2 separate regions of the Homo sapiens genome follow, and region 1 is linked to region 2. The links come from fine-mapping of genetic effects on gene expression. A gene starts in region 2. The other region holds a variant in brackets. All regions are shown on one strand. Distances are from middle to middle.

Region 1 (4,392 bases), 62 kb before region 2:
ATAAAGTAGATCCTCATGATATATTATCCAGGGCTTTCACTGCAAGACAAAGTATAGGTAAAGAAAATACAAATCAGTCAAACCCTCAGGAACTGGCTCATATCAGGGTAGCAGTAAAGATTAGGCAGACACAGAAACAATACCAGCAATAACACATAATTACATCCATTAAGCCACATCTGGAACATCATGTTTTCATGGAATTTTTGCTAACTTAGAAGAAAAGTGAATATAAACTGCTTCTCTAGCAAGCTTAGGATCTGGGAAACAATACAGGTATAGCTGACATGAACAGGTTACTTGGTTTATCCTGAAAAACTAATGTTTTTCAAGGTTCAATAAGGTTAAAATACTTAGTAGGTTAAAGCTTTCTAAGATATGGAAGACTTCCAGATAAGAAAGATACAGAGGAAAAATAGGAAAGTATTATTAAGTTAAAATAGATAATGAGGCTGGACGTGGTGGCTCATGCCTGTAATCCTAGCACTTTGGGAGGCTGAGGTGGGTGGATCACCTGAGGTCAGGAGGTCGAGATCAGCCTGGCCAACATGGTGAAATCCCGTCTCTACTAAAAATAGGAAAACTAGCCGGTGTGGTGGCACGCGCCTGTAATCCCAGCTACTCAGGAGGCTGAGGCAGGAGAATCACCTGAACCCAGGGGGCAGAGATTGCAGTGAGCTGAGATCACGCCACTTCACTCCAGCCTGGGCAAAAGAGTGAAACTCTGTTTCAAAAAAAAAAAGATAATGAAACAATTCTCTCCTTCCATAATTCATTCATTCAGTAATATTTGCTAACATCTTGCTATTGGCTGGGCGCAGTGGCTCATGCCTGTAATCCCAACACTTTGGGAGGCTGAGGCGGGCGGATGATGAGGTCAGGAGATTGAACACAGCCTGGCCAACATAGTGAAACCCCGTCTATACTAAAAATACCAAAATTAGCCAGGTGTGGTGCTGTGCGCCTATAATCCCAGCTACTCAGGAGGCTGAAGCAGGAGAATCGCTTGAACCTGGGAGGCGGAGGTTGCACTGAGCCAAGGTCATGCCACTGTACTCCAGCCTGGGCAATAGAGCAAGACTCTGCCTCAAAAAAATAAATAAAATAAAATAAAATAAATCAAACCTTGCTATCGCTTAGGCATTGGGCTAGATGCCAGGAATTCAATAACAAAATATATTTGGTCCCAGACCTCACAGTACTTGATCACTAAGGACTCCCACTAACCTATAAAATGAATCAATACTGATAATACAAAAATGAATATCAACCAAAAGAAAAAGAGAGAAAAACCTGGAATTCTTAGATTTTTTTCCAACTTATCTCCAAACACAACAATTGATTCCAGATGGAACATAATATTAATTGTAAAAAAGTAAACCATAAAAGTATTAAAATAAATTATAAAAGAATATGTTTTGTAATCTTGAAGTAGAAGGCTTTTTAAGCACATTAGTGCCAGAAATTATAATTAGAAAAAAATCCAGATTCTAGCTGGGCATGGTGGCTCACTCCTGTAATCCCAGAATTTTGGGAGGTGGAGGCAGGAGGACTGCTTGAGCCCAGGAGTTGCAGACCAGGCTGGGAAATATAGTGAGGCCCCTGTCTCTACAAAAAATAAATGTAAAAAGTTAGCCAGGCATGATGGTGAGTGCCTATAGTCCTAGCTACTAGGGAGGCTGATGTGGGAGGATCACTTGAGCCCAGGAATTTGAGGCTGCGGGGAGCCATAATGACACTACTGCACTCCAGCCTGGGTGACAGAGTGAGACCCTTCCTCAAAAAAAAAA[AAAAAAG/G]AAAAAGAAAATACAGATTCTACCAGCAAAACTGAATGGCAAAGGTGGAGCTGTCCAGAAGGTATCTGGGTCTAGAGAACAACGACAACAAAAATGGTACAAACAGGAGATAAACATTTATGAATTATCATTGAATAAGTAGAGAAGATCCCTCAGAGACAAAAAGAAAAAGTGAGACAATGACAGAACCCTGAGACTAATATAGAGGAAGAAAGAGTGAAGGGGTGGGTTGCCCCTCCACACCTGTGGGTGTTTCTCGTTAGGTGGAAGGAGAGACTTGGAAAAGAAAGAGACACAGAGACAAAGTATAGAGAAAGAAAAAGGGGCCCAGGGGACCGGCATTCAGCATACGGAGGATCCACGCCAGCACCGGCCTCTGAGTTCCCTTAGTATTTATTGATCATTATCGGGCATGGCAGGATAATAGGTTAATAGTGGAGAGGAGGTCAGAAGGTAAACACGTGAACAAATGTCTCTGCATCATAAACAAGGTAAAGAAAAAAGTGCTGTGCTTTTGATGTGCATATACATAAACATCTTAATGCCTTAAAGAGCAGTATTGCTGCCAGCATGTCCCACCTCCAGCCCTAAGGCGGTTTTCCCCTATCTCAGTAGATACAATCGGCTTTACACCGACACATTCCATTGCCCAGGGACGAGCAGGAGACAGAAGCCTTCCTCTTATCTCAACTGCAAAGAGGCGTTCCTTCCTCTTTTACTAATCCTCCTCAGCACAGACCCTTTACAGGTGTCGGGCTGGGGGACGGTCAGGTCTTTCCCTTCCCACGAGGCCATATTTCAGACTATCACATGGGGAGAAACCTTGGACAATACCTGGCTTTCCTCGGCAGAGGTCCTTGAGGCCTTCCGAAGTGTTTTGTGTCTCTGGGTACTTAAGATTAGGGAGTGGTGATGACTCTTAACAAGCATGCTGCCTTCAAGCATTTGTTTAACAAAGCACACCCTGCACAGCCCTTAATCCATTTAACTCTGAGTTGACACTGCACATGTTTTAGGGAGCACAGGGTTGGGGGTAGGGTTACAGATTAACAGCATCTCAAGGCAGAAGAATTTTTCTTAGTACAGAACAAAATGGAGTCTCTTATGTCTATTTCTTTCTACACAGACACAGTAACAATCTGATCTCTTTCTTTTCCCCACAAAAGAATCTACAAATAAATATGAGAAATGGCCAAGGAGAAAGAGGAGGAAAATCATGAGGGTGCTGTCTCTGAAACCAAAGCCCAAAGCCAGAGTTTCAAGAAGGGGAATAGTTGACAATGCCAAATACACACACACACACACACACACACACACAAACACACCACTATATAAATTAATTTAATTTAATGGTGATATACCATGCTCAGGGATTGAAAATTGCAATATAGGTAAAGATGTCAATTCTTCCCAAATTAATCCAAAGATTCAGTGTGGAATTGTAAATCACTCAGTAAAACAAAATTCTATAAATGTACATGTATATGTATGCATGTGTATATGAGATATATATGTATGTGATTTAATTGAGCATGGAGAAAAAAATGCAGAAGGATACACACCAGGAATTTAATATAGGTTACCTGAGCTGTTGAAGGTGATGAGAGTGGACGGGAAGTTAAGGTGGAAAAAAGAGAGGCTAAAAAGAGAAAGGAAAGGAAAAAAGACTTCTAAGAAAGCATAAGTGATTTTTATCAAAAGTGTATGTTTATGTACATTTTTACCTGTATGTACGTATATAAATATAAATAATTTTTTAATGAAATTGAAAAAGTGGTAGATACCTCTCAGAATTTGGAAGAGGTATTAATGAGACTTTTATAATTTACTCTATATACTTGTGAATTGTTTGAGATTCAAAAATTAAGAATGCAGTCATTTATATTACTTGCAAATAAAAATTAGATATTAAAATGAGGACTCAGACCTCATTAACCAAAAGCAATAATTTACTAAGTTCTATCCTGTCTTAAAGTTTTGGTCTTTTCCCATAATTATTCTCTTAAAACTTTCTGGTCATTATTCTTTATTTTAAAAAGGGATTTCCTCTGCAGGTAGAGATCCGGAAAAAAAATAAAGGATTCCTTTAGCACTTAAAAAAAATCTATAGCTTCTATTTTATATAAAAACCCTGAGGTGGGAAAGCTAACTTATGTCAATCTTATTCCTATTTGGCAGTACTAAACTATATAATACTTCTTTTTGCCACTATCTCTTTAAAATGTGGAAATTATTATTTTTAAATAGCAAGGAAAGGAAAACCGAGCTTAGCCTATACGAAAAACAAAAATACAATCTTACATACTAGAATACAAGACATTTTGTCCTTTAGACAACTAGTCCGTTTTCTAAAAATAACTACTTTTTACCATTAAATGAATGTGGGTCTTAGAAATATTACTGAATTTTCTTTTATTATCAAATACAAATTTAGCATATCCTATGTAAAATGCTGATGGCCCTTTTCTGCATATTATTTCAGATCTTGTTTTCTATACCCACAAGGATTTTCTATATATTTCTCATAAACAAGAGAGTCCACATATTTACTACTTACCTTATGAGTGAACAAAAAAATCACGATTGGGTTCGCAGA
Region 2 (4,392 bases):
ATAGCCTTTCGTTATAGGCAGTCTGAAGGAAGTTTTCTTTTTAAAATTGAGAGAATGTGGCTGGGCGGGGTGGCTCACACTTGTAATCCCAGTACTTTGGGAGGCTGAGGGCAGTCTGATCACTTGAGCCTAGGAGTTCGAGACCAGCCTGGGAAACATGGCAAAACCCAGTCTCTACAAAATACAAAAATTAGCCAGGCATGCTGGTGCACACCTGTAGTTCCAGCTACTTGGAAGGCTGAGGTGGGAGGATTGCTTGAGCACAGGAGGTCAAACCTGTAGTAAGCCGAGATCTTGCCATTGCACTCCAGCCTGGGCTATAGTCTCAAAAAAAAAGGAAAAAAGAAAAAGAAAAATCATTACGAAACTGAGAATGTGTCCTTAATGTAGACGCTAAAAGACAAAAAATAAAATTTAGAGAAAAACACAAGCATTTGTAGAGAAAAACAGGAAAAAGCCAGAGAAGACAGTGTATTTTTACACTCATGGGAAAGGCTAATACAGCAAGACCCCAGAAGAAGAGGTAAGGGGCAAATACTAACAAAAGCTATCATATACGGCACATTTACTATGTTCCAGGCACTAACCTAAATGATCTAAATACATTATTCACTTAGTTTAAATCCTCCCCAGAGTTCTATGAGGTCCATATTATTCTTTTCCCCATTTTACAGATGAGGAAAACACAGACGATCAAGAAATTTGCACAAGGCAACCACCTGGTAAGTGGCAGAGCTGAAATTAGACCCCAGGTCTGTCTGTAAAGCAAGATGGCCAAAATCAAGAATATTCAATACAATATAAATGTTTTTGGAAAGAAGGCCATCTCTTGTAAAACGGAACGCCAGGAAAAGATAATTGGAGGGCATAGCGGGGATAGGAAGGGAGATGGGAGAATCCCTGCCATGAAAGCCTCTGTCCCCCTCCAGTCAAAGAGGCGCTGAGGGAGATGGGGGGGAAAGGCCTTGAGGAGAGGCGAAAGGTTTGCTGCTGGAGGTGTGGAGAATGGAAAAAGACCAAGGAAGAGTCGAAGAGTCAAAGACAACTTGATGCCTGAAGCACAAATGCTCAGCTCCTACGAATCCTACATTCACATCTGAGTTAGGGCCTACTATGTGCTAGGAATGAATCTAGGCGCTGTAGAAATGAAAAACTTATTTAGGCATGTTGGTTTGATGCCTAAATAAACATTTCAGAAACAATCAACATCAATGATCACCTGACACTCCAGGAAACCCATTTCTCCAAAGAACTCCATCCGAAAGATTTTAAGAGTATATTCCAAGGAGAGACTGGATGGTGGGGGGGAGGGGCAGGACGAGAGGCCGAAGGGACAATTCCTGGGCGCGCCCACCCATAGTCCCCGCCCAGACCCTCTCGAAGGACCACAGAGGGACGCAGGGTGCAAGCCCTGAAGCTGCACCGGGGGCGGAGGGAACGTGGCTACCTGCGGCCAGACGTCAGGCGCGGCCCTTCCCCGACCTACTTGGCCGCTCCAGATGGACTCCCTCCGACTCTCTGGTTTCCCAGGGGCAGCCGACCTCCACTCGGGGGACTACCGCGCCATGCAGCCTCTTCCTTAGCAGTCCCTCACGGACCGGGCCCCTACGACAACTTACCCGCCCTGCCCGGCCCAAGACAACCCGGTTCCTTTCTGCCCACCGAGGTCTCCCTGGCATCTCCACCAATACCAGAGCGCTATCAGGGTATGGAGGCGGGACTGAGTGCCTACGGCCAATCATATCAGACGCAAAGCACGTCGCAGCGCCCACAACTAGTTCCCGCCTTTGGAAGGGAAAAAAAAAAACACGGTTGGCGCCAAACTCCAGTAATCTTCCTAGGGCTTTAAGAGAGAGGGGCGGGGTGTAAGGTGGCGGGGAAGGCGATGGGGCGGGGCTTCAATAGGAAGGGGCTGACCTGAGTGGAGGTAGGGGCGTGGCCTGAGAGAAGCTTTTTAGTGAAAGACAGGAAGCCTTGAGAGGTCTGTCATTTATTTAATACTTTATCTTAAAATTCTGCTGTCAGCTGCGTGCGAGACAAAGTGCTGGGCTCGATTACGATGAATAAATTTGTTCCCTGCCCTCAGACGCGTTCCTGGATGATAGGCAGACAAACAACTTAGCTTCGGATGTTGGGAGCCTTAAGGAGGGGATACTAGTCTAGCGGGGCAGGAGAGAGAAGAGCTTTTTACAGGGTGGAATACCTGACTTGCCTTATAGAACCTGTAGGAATGGGGGGTGCCGGTAGGTCTAGCCTCAGGAGCTCAGCCTGAGCATTGATAGGTGCGAAAATAAGGCCACCTTCCTCGGCTACTTATAGTCTGCCTATATTCATCCCTACCCATTTCCTCGTTTGTCCACTTAGCTTTTTTTTTTCTTTTTGCTTTCAGACAGGGTATCGCTTTGTCGCTCAGGCTGGAGCGCAGTGGAGCGATTTCGGCTCCCTGCAACCTCCACCTCCAAGGCTCGAGAGATCCTCCCACCTCTGCCTCCAGAGTAGCTGGGACCATAGACGCGAGCGACCACCACCCCTGGCTGTTTTGTTTCGTTTTGTTTCTGAGATGGAGTTTCACTCTTGTTGCCCAGGCTGGAGTGCAATGGCGCGATCTCGACCCACTACAACCTCCGCCTCCGGGGTTCAAGTGATTCTCCTGCCTCAGTCTCCCGAGTAGCTGGGATTGCAGGCATGTGTTACCACGCCAACCTAATTTTTGTATTTTTAGTAGAGACAGGGTTTCGCCATGTTGACCAGGCTGGTCTTGAACTCCTGTCCTCAGGTGATCTGCCCAGCTTGGCCTCCCAAAGTGCTGGGATTAAAGGCGTGAGCCACCCACGCCCGGCCACCCCTGGCTAATTTTTTAAAATTTTTGTAGAGATGGGGTCTTGCTATGTTGCCCAGGCTGGTCACGAACTTCTGGGCTCAAACAATCCTCCCACCTCAGTCTCCCAAAGTGCTGGGATTACAGGTGTGAGTCACTGCACCTGACCCCATTTAGTCTTAACTGCCATATCAACCAATTTATTTTTATTTTTATTCTTTTTTTTTTTTTTTTGAGACGGAGTTTCACTCTTGTCACCCAGGCTGGAGTGCAGTGGTGTGATCTCAGCTCACTGCAACCTCCGCCTCCGGGGTTCATGCGATTTTCCTGCCTCAGCCTCCCAAATAGCTGGGATTACAGGGGCCTGCCTGGCTAGTTTTTTGCATTTTTAGTAGAGATGGGGTTTCGCCATGTCGGGCAGGCTGGTCTCAAACTCCTGACCTCAGGTGATCTGCCCGCCTCGGCTTTCCAAAGTGCTGGGATTACAGGCGTGAGCCACCGCGCCTGGCTTTATTTTTATTATTTTTTTAGAGACAAGGTCTCAGTCTGTTGTCCTAGCTGGAGTGCAATGGTGTGATCATAGCTTACTGCATCCTCAAACTCCTAGGCTCAAGCAATGCTCCTACCTCAGCCTCCCAGGTAGCTGGGACCACAGGCACACAACACCACACTCGCCTTTCTTTCTTTCATTTTTTTTTTTTTTTTTTAATATAGACAGGGTCTCGCCATGTTGTTGCCCAGGCTCGTCTCCAACTCTTGACCTCAAGCAATCCTCCGACCTCTGCCTTCCAAAGTGCTGGTATTACAGGTATGAGCCACTCCACCTAAGTTATGTATTTTTATTTGCACATATGCATGGCTTTTTTTTAATTAATTAATTAATTAACTTTTTTTTTTTTTTGAGTTGGAGTTTTGTTCTTGTTGCCCAGGCTGGAGTGCAATGGGGCGGTCTCGGCTCACTGCAACCTCCACCTCCCAGGTTCAAGTGATTCTCCTGCCTCAGCCTCCCAAGTAGCTGGGATTACAGGCACCTGCCACCAGGCCTGGCTATGTTTTTTGTATTTTTAGTAGAGATGGGGTTTCACCGTGTTGGCCAGGCTGGTCTCAAACTCCTGACCTCAGGTATTCCGCCCGCCTCGGCCTCCCAAAGTGCTGGGATTACAGGCGTGAGCCACTGTGTCTGGCCGGCTTTAATTTTTTTAATAAGAGCTTTACTGGGATATAATTTACATACTATATAATTCACCCAAATAAGTTGGGTGTGGGAGGGTGTTAGATACACAGTCTGCCTCTGTCACCCAGGCTGGAGTGCAGTAGCACAATCGTAGTTCACTGTAACCTTGAACCCCTGGGCTCAAGAAATCCTCATGCCTGGGCCTCCCAAGGTACTGGAATTACAGATGTGAGCCACTGTGCCTGGCCCCAATTAAACTGTTGAGTTTTCAGCACCATAAGACAGGGTGAGAAAAATAAAAACTAAATTAATTAATTACTTTTTGAGTTTGTATTTTTATAACCTTTCACTTTTGAACCATGTAACTGTTTCACATATTCAAAGACTGAGTTAAATCAGA

What was found. PIP is the estimated chance that this variant, and not a neighbour inherited with it, causes the effect.
Region 1: its variant is the best candidate, but not a certain one, in a credible set for the expression of CASP8AP2 in whole blood (INTERVAL, PIP 0.53).

The regions. Positions count from the first base shown.
Region 1 is chr6:89,889,387-89,893,778 of GRCh38, reverse strand. No RefSeq gene overlaps it. Among named protein-coding and RNA genes, the nearest start is that of GJA10, 2.9 kb to the left of the region's middle. The variant AAAAAAG/G (reference allele first, on the strand shown) is at 1,791.
Region 2 is chr6:89,827,162-89,831,553 of GRCh38, reverse strand. It overlaps CASP8AP2 (caspase 8 associated protein 2), which reads right to left and starts at 1,674. Exons shown (of 10, transcript NM_012115.4): 1 at 1,448-1,674. RefSeq lists an enhancer at 1,985-2,174 and a silencer at 2,275-2,324.